Linked DNA regions of Homo sapiens: all the other regions are linked to region 2. A link means that fine-mapping ties the variant in region 2 to the expression of a gene that starts in the linked region. Tissue or cell type: whole blood. Region 2 holds a variant in brackets; each other region holds the start of a gene. All regions are shown on one strand. Distances are between the middles of the regions.

Region 1 (4,000 bases), 25 kb before region 2:
TAGGGGGGTTGGGCCCCAACGAAGGAGAGAAACCAGGTTCCAGGGTATGTGCATTGGGGCAGAAAAGCGGCAGCAACTGGTGGGCGTGGGGTTATTGAAATATTGGCAGGTTGGGGAGGGGACTGGTGGGACACAAATGGGAAGATGGGGTTGAGAGAGGTCCTGAAAAGGGGTTGAGGGGTTTTCACAGGAAAAAAAGGTTACTGGAGGGGAGGGTCTTCACGGCAAGGAGAGAGGAGCTTGGGTGAGAGGTCTCCATAGGGAAAATAGGAGATGGCTGGGATTTCCCCCGGGGAAAATGGGAAGGGGCTGGATATTGGGGGTCTCCAGAGGGAAAATGGGAGGTGTGAGTATCTCACTACAGGAAAGAGGGAATAAGTGGGCAAAAATGGGTGGGTGGTTGAAGCGGGGGTCTTGCCACAGGGAAACCACGGTGGCTGAAGATCTCCGTGGGTTAAGAAATGGAGGCCGAGAAGGTCTCCCCATGAAAACGGGTACCTAGGAAGAGCTCCAGAGAAAAAAGATGGATGAGGTTCCCCACGCGGGAAATGGGGCTTGGAGGGGGTTAATCTCTATGGGGAGGTCGGGGCGGGCAGTGGGGGAAGAGGCCACTGGGAGGTCCGAGTTAGCTGGCGGGGGGTCTCCACCCGGGAGGTCAAGGCGGGCAGTGGGGGAGGAGGTCACGGGGAGGTCCGTGTTGGCTGGTGGCGGGGGGTCTCCACCGGGAGATCCGGTTGACTGGCGGGCTGGGGGAGATCGGGGTTGGCGGAAGGGGGACGAGGGGTTTCATGGGGGAGATCAAGTTGGCCATGGGAGCGGTTCTCTGAGGGGAGGCCGGGGTCGGCCCGGGGGTGGGGGTCCCCGCACAGGCCCAGCCTCACCGTCCGCCAGGGCTTCACTGCACTCGAAGCTGATCTCGAACCGGAAGGGGCTGTGGAAAGGGCTCGGGTTCTCCAGGACCGCCACGTTCAGCACCGACACCTTGGCCATCGCCTCGCCTCGCCGCGCCGCAGCAGGGGCAGGGGCTGTGGCTGTGGCGGAGGCCGCGCCTGGGTCCGGTGGGGTCAGTGGGGTAGGGCTGACCAGGTCCACTCCCGCCTCTTCTCTCCGAGAACTGAAGTGCGCACCTAGTCCGCGCGCCGCCTTCAAATAGCCGGCCTCCGCCCTCTGGCCAATCACCGCCAACGCTCCCTGGCGGCGCGCGCACCCCCTCAGCCAGTCCTGGAGCGCCGATCGGCGCGCGCCCAGACTCCTCGGACCAATCAGCGGAGCTCCCTCTCCGCAGCGTGTGAGGAGGGCGAAACTATCTCCAAGCTTCTTAGCGTGTCCGCTGGAAACCAATCCCCAGCGTCTCCGACTTGGATGTCAACGGCGGGAATGGACGGAGTCACAGCGCCGGCCTCCTTCTGGCCAATCCTGAGGGTTCCCGCACCGGCGTGGCCCGCCCCTCGCCTCGCTTTTCCGGGAGATGCATCCCGCAGCGCGCAGCGCCGCCACCCGCCGAGCGGTGGCGCGCGGCGCTCGCTAAAGAAGGCGGGAAGGGCGGTGCTCGCACCCGAAGTGATTGGCAGGAGGGAGTGGGGCGGAGATAAAGAGGGTTTTCTGAGAGTTTATTGGCTGGATTGGTAATGGTGGCGGGAGCAGAAGGAGGCTCAGCTGGGGATTCGCTGGAGAGAAGCGGAAGTCGAGCGCCACCGCGGTGTTGGCGAGTGTGAAGAGAGAGGAGGAGCGTTTGCGGCCTCAGCGTCTGTCAACAGGTGAGCGTTTCCTGGAGCTTTTCTGAGTGGCTCCTGACCCTTGAGGTCCAGCGGCGCGGGAGTCCGTTGTGAACGTTGCGAACGTTCGGAGTGGCGGTCACGAGGCGCGCTCAGACCTCGGGAATCCGGCCGGGTTCGGATCCCGCTTTCGCCCCCGAGGGGTTCGGATCCCGCTCTCGCCCCCGAGGGGTTCGGATCCCGCTCTCGCCCCCGAGGGGTTCGGATCCCGCTCTCGCCCCCGAGGGGTTTGGATCCCTCTCTCGCCCCCTTGAGGGCTCTTGGGAGGTTTCAAGCGGACGGTACTGAAAATGGGAGTTCCAGTTCGGGGGCAGACCAGTGTTCAGAGTCCGGGCTCTGCTACTCAGCGCCCGAGGCAGCGCCTCCCCATTCAACGGGGGCCGTGGCAATTCCCTGACATGATTCATGACCACATAATACATCCGGAAACTTCTCTCCACCGCCTCCCGTCTGGGCCGTCGCCCCCGGCCTGGGAGACTCCAGGTCTCAGAGTCTCTGCCCCCACGGGCGATCAGTGCTGCCCAGTGGAAAAATAATGCCAGCCGCGCACCAAAATTAGGTGTAAAATTAACATTTTTTGGAAGCCACTTTTTTTTTTTTGAGATGGAATCTCGCGCTGTCACTCAGGCTGGAGTGCAATGGCGCGATCTCGGCTCACTGCAACCTCTACCTCCCGGGTTCAAGCGATTCTCCTGCCTCAGCCTCCTGAGTAGCTGGGATTACAGGTGCCCACCACCACAACCAGCTAATTTTTTTTCTGTATTTTCAGTAGAGACGGGGTTTCACCATGTTGGCCAGGCTGGTCTCGAACTCCTGACCTCAAGTGATCCGCCCGCCTCGGCCTTCCAGAGTGCTGGGATTACAGGCGTGAGCCACTGTGCCCGGCCATATCTTTTTTTATTATTATTTGTAATTTTAGAGGCTGGTCATGGAGGATTTCTTGAGGCCAGGAGTTCAAGATCAGCCTGGGCAACATAACAAGACCTCATATCTACAAAAAATAAAAGAATAAGCCAGGTGTGGTAGTGCATACCTGTAGTGTCTGCTACTCCTGAAGCTGAGGCAGGAGGATCTCTTGAGCCCAGAATGCTCCAGCCACTGCACTCCAGCCTGAGTGTCAGAGTGAGACCCTGTCTCTAAAAATTAAAATTAAATTTTAAAAAAGAAAGTTCAGTTTAGCTGTCTTGATAGCCGCAGTTGAGTGCTCCTGAGCCCGTGTGACAAGTGGCTCCTGTATTACTGGACAGCGAAGGTCAGAAACACATTTGACCAGGTCACTTCTCCGGATGAGAGCATTGTCTTTGAAACTCTATGCTTTGTCTCCTGTTAACCACCCAGCTCCAACTTCAAACCAGGCTAAGTAACCCTCTTTTTGTTAAAATTCTGACAAGCCACTCCCAGTGCAAAGCCTCTGCCCAGAACCTCTTCTCCTAGGCTCTTGGCATGGCTTATGCCTTCTTGTCATTCAAGTCTCTGTTCAAATGTCCTCTCCCCAGAGAGGCCTTTCTAAGGGTGCTCTGGACAGTGTTCAAACTCACAGGCCGTACGCCTGAACAGCACTGAGCCAAGGCACTAGTATTTCTTACCCAGTCACCTCTGTGGGCTCACTAGGACTCACTCACTGTGCTAGTATGTTTTCCTTTTCCTTTTCTTTTTAAACAATCCAGTTCCTGTGGGATTTTTTTTTTTTAATAGAGGTCTGTTGCCCAGGCTGGAGTGCAAGTGGCATAATCGTGGCTCACTATAACCTGGAACTCTTGGGCTCAAGTGATCCTCCCACCTCAGCCTCCCGAGTGGCTGGGATCACCAGTGCGTGCCACCATGCCTAATTTGTTTTATTTTATTTTATTTTTTTTTTGAGAGGGAGTCTTGCTCTGTCACTCAGGCTGGAATGCAGTGGCGCAATCTCAGCTCACTGCAACCTCCTGCTTCCAGCTTCAAGCGATTCTCCCACCTCAGCCTCCCGAGTAGCTGGGACTACAGGCACACGCTACCTTACCCAGCTAATTTTTGTATTTTTAGTAAAGATGGGGTTTCACTATGTTGGCCAGGCTGGTCTCAAACTCCTGACCTCAGGTGATCCACTCACCTCGGCCGCCCAAAGTGCTGAGATTACAGGCATGAGCCACCGTGCCCTGCCTCTTATACTTTTTAAATTTTTTGTAGAGACAGGGTCTCGCTGTTGCCCAGGCTGGTCTTGAAACTCCTGGCCTCAAGCAGTCCAC
Region 2 (4,000 bases):
TCTCCCCAGCTGCTCCACGACCCCCGCTGGGCCCTGGGCCCTGGGCCCGAGCACATGTGCCTGCCTGCGAGGGGTGGTGGCTGGTACCTTCTGGGCCACCTGGTTGACCCAGGGGGAGGTGCAGTTGCTGAGGTCAGGGCCCCGGGGGTTCCAGAGCCCCAAGGCTGGTAGACACTGGAAGGAGGCAATTCCTGCAGGGACAGACAGACAGGAACAGACAAGGGAGCCAAAGGGAAGAAGAGAAGGATGGGACAGAGAGGGGGAAAGGAGATGACAGAGAGTGGGGGACGAGCGGGCGAAGAGGGAGGTGAGGGAAACACGGAGAAACAGACATGAAGCGGGCTGGACAGTCGAAAGAGGCGCCACTCACTTCCCCTGAGCTCTCCCTCCTGCCCCCTTCTGTCTTTGCCTCCAGAGTTAGAACCTTCCAGCAAGGCCCATCTTGAACGCCCCCTCTCCACGAAGCACCTGCCAACCCTCCCCTCAGATCTCCAGGACACACGGCCCTGCCCTTTTTGCACTTCAGCTGGCCATCCATGTGAAGCTGACTGTGCCTGGGGCTGTGGCAGGTCAGCCTGAGGCCGGGAGCCAGGTCACCTCCTGCGGACTCCCTGCAGGTTCTGCAGGTGGGGCCAGGGGCACTGAGTGGCTCCTGTGCCCTGAGAGCTCTGCTGGTCACTGGGGATGACCCCTGCCCTCAGAAAACCTCTGCTCCGCAGTAGAGACCCCCACCCACACATGCATCTGTGCTAAGCTGCTGGGGGCATGGCCCCCATCCCTCCCCTGGCTGCAGCCTCTGTACTCACCTCGAGTCCCCTTGGGGCAGGGCCTCTCCACCAGCATGCCCTGCTGGGTGGCCGGCCACTGGACCCGCCGTACCTCTCGGGGCTCGCAGAAGAGCTCAGGGGACACGTGTAGATTCGGGGCTGGGGGCCGCCGGGTGCTGGGGACTGGGGCTGTGGCTGGAGGCAGATCAGGTCCCAGCTGGTTGATGGCACCCACTGGGTGCGTGGTGAGGGGTGCCCGGCGGAGCGGGGTGGTGGCTGCGGGCGAGGCTGTGCTGGTGAGGGGCGTGGGCCTGGCTGTGGTGGTCGTGCTGAGGGGTGGGGAAGTGGCTGGGCCTGGAGAGGGGATACGAGACAGGGTCATCCCCATGCTCAGGGCCATGCCACAGTGTGCTTGGGCAGGGGGTCCCAGGCCATCTTAGCATCTTCCTCATCTACTGAAGTGGAAACACGTGCCGGGCCCCACTGGGTCTATGAGTTGATCTCCCCTGGCCGCTCTGTGCCCACCAAAGTCCCTTATGCCCATGGGCCCATATAAAGTAGCAAAGAGTGGTAAAAATCCACGATGTGTACCATAAGGTCTGAGAGAACGGTCAGGGGAGAGGCAGGGACAGAGGTGTCTGGGGGACAGGAATCCTCCCAGGTTGAGCCCGAGGGCAGGAGCCCTCCCCAATCCAGGTCAGCCCCGCCACCAGGTGGGGGCTGAATACCACCGCCCCCCATCCTCGTTCTAGCTGACTTTGGCTTATGTAACCTGGCTATGCTCCTTCCTTCTGGGGGCCTCAACTCCCCCTTTTGCAAACAAGATGGGGTTAGATCGGGCTCCCTGGAGCCCTGGGGTGGCACAGAGCTAGCAGGGCAGCTAGGCGGGGCAAAAGAAGACTGCAGAGTTGCCCTCAGCCCGGTCAGCATCAGCAGCTCAGCTCTTTTGTGGATACTGGACTTCCACCCAGGATTTTGGTGGATCCAAGGGTTCCTGGAGTAAAGGTGCCCAGGCCCCTGGGAGAGGCACTGCAGTTCAGTGGTTGGGAGGCTGGGTTCAAATCCTCAAATAACTTAATCCCCTACCCACACAGAGCCTCAGTGTCATCTGTAAAACAGGGCAGTAAGGATCCCTGTGTCATAGACCGTGAGGAGACGAGTTAATGACTGTGAAGTGCTTAGAACAGCGTCTGTCACATGCTGTGAATTTCCTTTACCTCCCGATCCCCAAGAGCTCACAGGATGGGGCTCCCCACTCTGGGACCCAGGGGTGGGTGGGGGTGGAGGGGACAAAGGCAAGCAGGCTCCATGCCTGGAAGTGAGTCGTCCTCACCAGCACTGGGGTCGGGCGGCCCGAACTCCAGGCTGTAGCGCACCACGAAATAGTTGTTCCAGACGTACAGCTGGTTGTCGCGAGGGTTGTAGTCAACGGAGGAGATGAACTGGTAGGGGTTGGGGAAGGTGAGGCTGACAGGCTCCTCGCGGTTGGCATTGGTGTTGAAGGCATAGTCCACGCGGTTGCCAGCCGCCTCGCTGTCATCATCCACGTACACGGA[A/G]CGCAGGACGTACAGGACCCCACACACCATGAAGGCGTTGGATGCCGAGCGCTTGTCGTAACCCGTCTCCCACGTGCCCTCAAAGCGCAGTGTGTAGGGGTTCAGCTGGCTCACCACCAGCCGCCCGTTGTTGCCCTCAGTGGCGTAGATGACCCACAGCCCGTTCTCGTCCACCGCCAGGTCAATGTCGGTCTTTCCGCCCCAGCGGTAGGGCGAGGTGTCATGGTAGTTGGCGGTATTGATGACCGTCTCCCCGCTCTTGATGCGCGTCCGTAGGTCATACTTGACGATGTTGCGCGTGCGCTCCTTGTTGTAGAAGACGGCACCATCGTAGACCACAAAGCCTGTGCCATCCACGCGGTTGGGCAGGCGGTAGGTGGTGGTGTGGCGGGCGGCCACGTAGTCCTCCCACGAGGCATACTCAGTCAGTGTGTCCGTGCGGTAGGGGATCCAGGGCATCACGTAGATGCGGTCACCCGCCTGCAGCGGGTCCTTGCACCATGCGCCAGACTGGTGCTCTGACTCGTGTGTCGAGGTGGGCTCCAGCACCTTCTGCAGGGTCCCTGGGCACACGAAGACTGGGCAGAGTGGGCGGGAGGGGAGGAGGTAGGAGAGAAGGGGCAGAGGCGAGAGGGAGGAGAGAGAGAGAGAGAGAGAGAGAGAGAGAGAGGGGGGAGAGAGGCAAGTTGGTCACGCTGCTGGTGGGGAGCCAGGTTGTCCCCTCCTGCTGCTGCAGTCACGGTTGCTTGGTATGGCTGGTGATGGGAAGGGGGTTTCCGGGCTGGGACCCGACCCCCTCCCCACGCCCTGCCCAGCTGCCCCTCTCCCTGGAAATGTGAACCCTGAAGGCCATTAAGAGCGGGGTTAGTGAGGGGAAGTGGTGCCCCTCTTCCCTTCCCTGGCTGCTAGAGACCCCACAGGCTGGGGAGGAGTTTGGCAAGAGCCCTCCCAGAGGTGGTCCTGTGTGATTTAAGTGGGGGCAGAATCTCCCCGCTACAGTCACTCCTGACTTTGACGGTCCAGGGACTCAGCACCCGGCCCCTTCTCCCTCTTCTCTGCCACTTAGGGAAGAGCTAGGGTCCAGGATCCCATCCTTCACCAACCACACCCGGACAGTGTTTTTTTTTTTAACTCCTCTTTCTTCCTCCTGCAAAAATTGCAAGGTAGAGTGGTGTTTCCATACCCACTGTGGGTGTCAGGAGTGTCTCCCTATTCCAGGATAGGGGTTTCAACTCTCTCCCCAGGTTCCTGATGCAGCCTGCTCCCCACCCCCCACCCAGTACCCACGAAGTCAGTAGCCGAGGAAGGGATTCCCAGAGGCAGCTCCCAGGCTAGGACGGGGAATGAAAGAGTCTGGCCCCTCCTGGAGGGCGCCCAGCCCTGCCCCCAGCCGGCAGGGTCTCTCATGGGGTCTGGCTCAGCAGCAGACAGTGGCACTGTGCACAGGGGTGGGGGTGGGGACATGGAGAGGGACAGGGCTCCCGGGAGAGTTGGGGAGGGAGAGGAGAGCTGTGCAGAGGGAAGAGAGACAAGGGCGTATGGGGCTTGGCGAGGTCCTGGCTCCGTGGGAGGCTGCGCTGCAAACCACCTGGGAAGAAAGGGTTAGTGCTGGCGGAGGAGAGAGGGGTGAGCAGAGAATTCACTCCAAGGCCCAGGCCCGACTGAGGGTCCCTCAGG
Region 3 (4,000 bases), 44 kb after region 2:
GCATGGCAGACAAATTGCTAGTTAGGAAAATCACGGATAATTTTCTCGATATGATAATGAAGGTTGTAATCCTTCTCTTATTCTCCCTGTTTTCATCCTACTTTTAAGTAATAAATTTGGCATTAGTGGGAGGGGAGCAGGGAGGAAGGAGAAGTCACCTGCCCCCCAAAGCTGGGGCCTGACAGGGACCCACGCAGAGTCCCCTGCCGGGGGCAGACAGGAGAAGAGAATGAGGGGTGTGGACCCTCCGTGGGGTTGATCAATTCAGGGGGCCAGGCCCTGGAGAGCAGGTGGAGGGCACGGAGCTTTCAGGCTGTGAGCCAGGGTGAAGGAGTGGGGTCTGGGGTCAGGTTAGACTCATGCCAGCCCTTGGGGTGTTGGAGAGAGAAGCAGAAACCAATGGTCTGTCCCCAAACAGCATGGAGGTCAACGGCCCGGAATAGACATTCACCCTCAGGTGTGCCCCACTGGATCCGACCTCCTCTAAGCAGTGACTCCCTACCAGGATAAGGGAGCCGGGCAAGCAGAGAGGGGAAGAGAGAAAGACAGAGAGAGATAGAGAAAGACAGAGAGAGTGAGAGAGAGAGAGAGAGAGAGAGAGAGACAGACAGAGAGAGAGAGAGCGCGCGAGCCAGCCATCTTGGCAGCCATTTTGAACCCCTCCCCCTCCTGCCCCCAGGCACACATGTTGGGAAGTGGGATGTGGGAAGACAGACCCCAGCTCTGAGTCCGGTGGAAGCCAGGCGGAAGGGGGGGCCCTGCCTGGAACTGGGATACAGAAACACCCACGCAGCTGGCATGGCTGGGGGTGGATGGGGGTTGGAACAGGAAGAAAGGGTCCAGGCAGGTACAGTGAGGTGTTGGCCAGGGATGGGGCAGTGTGAGGACCCGGACTGGAAGTGTAGAGACAGGGGTGTGTGTAGCCAGCGGCTGTCTTCAGATGGGGGCCAGGGGTGCACTGGAGAGATACCTGGGAGGGCATTTTCTGGACACGGCTGGAGCAAACACAGCATCCCCCCACCCCACCACTTCAGGCCTGGACTCGGGTCCCAGGACCGTCAGATGGGAGGATGACAACCAAACCCTCGCAGCTCAATCCAATGCGCACCTGGGGTGGGGGTGGGGAGCTGTCCTCAAAGCACGAATAATCCGAGTGGATCAAACCTGCCGGCCTCCCGTGCTTTAACCCGGCACCACGGAGAGAAGGTGCTGCCCGGCTGCACCCCCTCCTCCTGACAGCGGCGCCCCCCGGACTGCGGCCGGCTGGACACCCAGACGGACCCCTCCCCATCCCCCGCGCCACTGCCTCCCAGAGAAAAACAACCCCCTCGCCCAGCATCCTGTGGTGCCAGCCCCCGACACGGCTCCTCTGGGGCGCGGGGCCGGCGCGCGGCGCGCACACGCACCCCCTCCGCTCACACCCAGACACCTACACAAACAGGGCGCCAAGCACCCGCGCGCACACGCACCGGGGACACGCAGGCACCGCCGCGCCGCTTCCCCACAAAGGCTGGCGCGCGCGCGGGCACACGCAGCCACGCGCGGGCACACTCGCGGTCCCCTCCCCCCGCCAGGCACCCTGCGGTAGCCCGTCCGCACCCCCGCGCCCCGGGCGCTCCGTGGGGGCCGCCCCTCCCAGGCCCCTCGCCAGTGGGGGTGAGGTGCGGGCTGCCCCCGACGCCCCTCCCGCTCAGGTGCGGTGCCCCGCGCGGCTCCCGTGTCCCCTCCCCCCTCGCGGCCAGGACAGGCCCCGGCCTCCCATCCTTCCCGCCTCCCCTCTTCCACGCGCCCCGCACACCTGGCCCAGGTGCGGCTTCGCCCCTCGCCCTGGGCCCGCAGACACTCACCTGTCCAGCGCCTCTCTGGGGTCGGCCCAGCGTGTCTCTCCTGCGGCTCGGCGAACCCGGGCCCCCCGCCCGGCACATCTCCCGGAGCCGGGGCTGGGGGGAAGCGGGTAGGAGGTGGCGGGACGAGGGCGGCCTCCGTGTCCCTTCCTTCCCCTGGCCCAGCACCGCCGCCGACCAAAAATTAGGAAAAAAAAAAAAAAAGAAAAGAAAAGAAAAAAAAGAGGCGGATTACACGGATCCAAAGGCGGCCCCCTCGCGGCGGCGGAGGCTCGGGACTGGGGGCGATCGGGTCTGCGCCCCTCCCGGGGAGGGAGGCGGTGGGGCGGGGGCGGCGTCAGAGCGCCGGGGGCTGGGGCGAGGCGGAGCGCCCCGAGGCGGCGCCGGCAGCGGCCCGCATCTCCCCCGCAGCTCCGCGGCCCCGACGGAGGCGGCACGTGTGCGCCCAGGCGACTTCCCAGCCCCCTCCGACGCCGGCGGTGGACGAGGGGTTAACGGGGCAGCCGGGGCGCCCCTGCAGGCCCCCGCCGCCCGGCGGCGCCGCTCCGGGGCCCGCGCGGCCCCATCAGCCGGGGCCTCCTCGGCAGACGGCGGGGCGGGGGCACCGCAGCGCCGACAGCTCCCGCGCCGACGGCTCGGGCTCCCCGCAGTGGCCGCGGGGAGCTCGGGTTGGGGGCGGGCGGCGCGGAGCTGGCGGAGGGGGGCGGCGCGGCTGGAGGCGGGTGCCGCGGCGTCGCGCCCCCGGTGCGGCCGGAGGGGGGGCGCCGGGCCGGGCCCGTGGGCACCGCAGGACGCGCGGACCGAGCCGGCGCCGGGCACCAGCAATGACAAGCCGCCTGCTCGCCCCGCTCCCCGGCGCACCCGCTCCGGGAGGGGGGCGGTGGGCGCGCGCAAAACCCGGCCCGGAGTCGCCGCCCGGGACTGGCCGCCGCAACCCGCTTGAGCGCCCCAGGAGCCGGCCCGAAAACCCGGGCTGGACTTTCCTTCCTTTCGCCTCCTCTCGCCTCCTCCCTGGAAAAGCAGGGAGAGGGAAAGCGACGTGCTGGAGCCCCGCGTTGGAGCGGGGAGTGGGGGAAGGGAGACAGGCGTAAGGAAGACCCGGAGCGGATTTTCCAGTGAAGTATAAGGAAAGGCGCCGAGCCCGGGGAAGGAGGGCGCAAATGGGGAGATCTGGAAGGGTTGTGCAAAACCCGAGTTGGATTAGATAAAGATGGGAGGAACGGTGTTGGAGCGGGGGGTTGGGGGGTAGATGCGACATGGCCAAATGCACCCGGGGCACGCAAATTTCGGGCCGGATTCTTTCTCGGGAGACGGAGTAATGCGTCAGGCCTAACGCAGTGGAAACAAGCAAGACCCGGCCCGGAACTCCCGGGACCTGGGTTCGCATGGTGGGGGGTTCTGGAAGGGGGATGCTTAGTGGCTGAGGCGACTTGGGCTGCCCTCATCTTCCTGGCAGCGACGTGCAAGGGGGACGGGCAAAAGGAGGACTGGACTCGGGTACGAAGGGATTTGGCGCGCTGGCTGCACCGGAGCGGACAGGTAAAAGCGGTTTCTGGATCCAGGGGCGCTGCGAAGGGAATGCGATGAGGCCGCTACCCTGGGAGACCAGACCTACAATAAAAGGCGAGGGAGGCACGCAAAGCCAGGACTGGAGCGCGGGACGGGATGAGACCCTCAGCAGAAGATCCTGGGCCACCGGGACAGGGGCTTGGAGCTGACCGGGCAGCAGGGGCGGAGGGAAGCGTTAGGGGGAGGTTTGTACCTGTAAACGCCTCAAAGTCTTGCTTTTGGGGAGGGGGTGCGAGGGGAAAAATTGAATTTTATGTTCTCTAAAAGAGTAAAAACCCGGCATGGATTTTCAACACCTAACAACTCCATTGCAGCTGGTGGACTCTAAGAAGTAGGGCAAGAAGCAGGCTTGGGTTCCCAGGCATCAGACCAAGTGAGGCGAGGGGCAGGTTTCGGGTTGAGGCTGCAGAGGGAGCCCCCGCACCCCCTCTCTGGGGTGGGGAAGGCTGTTGGACCCGGCTTGGCTCTCTGGAGAGCGAAAGTTATGACTGCCAAGACCTATAGCTGGGGCTATAAAACTGGGCCCCAAGCCAAAAATAGGCACTTCGGCAGAACAGGCAACTTTGTGCAGGGTGGGGGCTGGAGGG

Evidence for each region. PIP is the estimated chance that this variant, and not a neighbour inherited with it, causes the effect.
Region 1: it holds the start of ADGRL1-AS1, and the variant in region 2 is fine-mapped to the expression of ADGRL1-AS1 in whole blood (INTERVAL, PIP above 0.99).
Region 3: it holds the start of ADGRL1, and the variant in region 2 is fine-mapped to the expression of ADGRL1 in whole blood (TOPMed, PIP above 0.99).

What each region holds. Positions count from the first base shown.
Region 1 is chr19:14,135,467-14,139,466 of GRCh38, forward strand. It overlaps ADGRL1-AS1 (ADGRL1 antisense RNA 1), which reads left to right and starts at 1,686. Exons shown (of 3, transcript NR_045214.1): 1 at 1,686-1,757. It overlaps ASF1B (anti-silencing function 1B histone chaperone), which reads right to left and starts at 1,123. Exons shown (of 4, transcript NM_018154.3): 1 at 882-1,123. The coding sequence starts at 990. RefSeq lists a silencer at 889-938 and enhancers at 1,269-1,408, 1,486-2,112, 1,609-1,768.
Region 2 is chr19:14,160,506-14,164,505 of GRCh38, forward strand. It overlaps ADGRL1 (adhesion G protein-coupled receptor L1), which reads right to left. Exons shown (of 23, transcript NM_014921.5): 5 at 2,101-2,901; 6 at 807-1,121; 7 at 88-191. The region is part of intron 2 of ADGRL1-AS1 (ADGRL1 antisense RNA 1); the gene reads left to right. Among named protein-coding and RNA genes, the nearest start is that of ADGRL1-AS1, 25 kb to the left of the region's middle. The variant A/G (reference allele first, on the strand shown) is at 2,324.
Region 3 is chr19:14,204,138-14,208,137 of GRCh38, forward strand. It overlaps ADGRL1 (adhesion G protein-coupled receptor L1), which reads right to left and starts at 2,032. Exons shown (of 23, transcript NM_014921.5): 1 at 1,848-2,032. RefSeq lists silencers at 2,646-2,705, 2,726-2,825.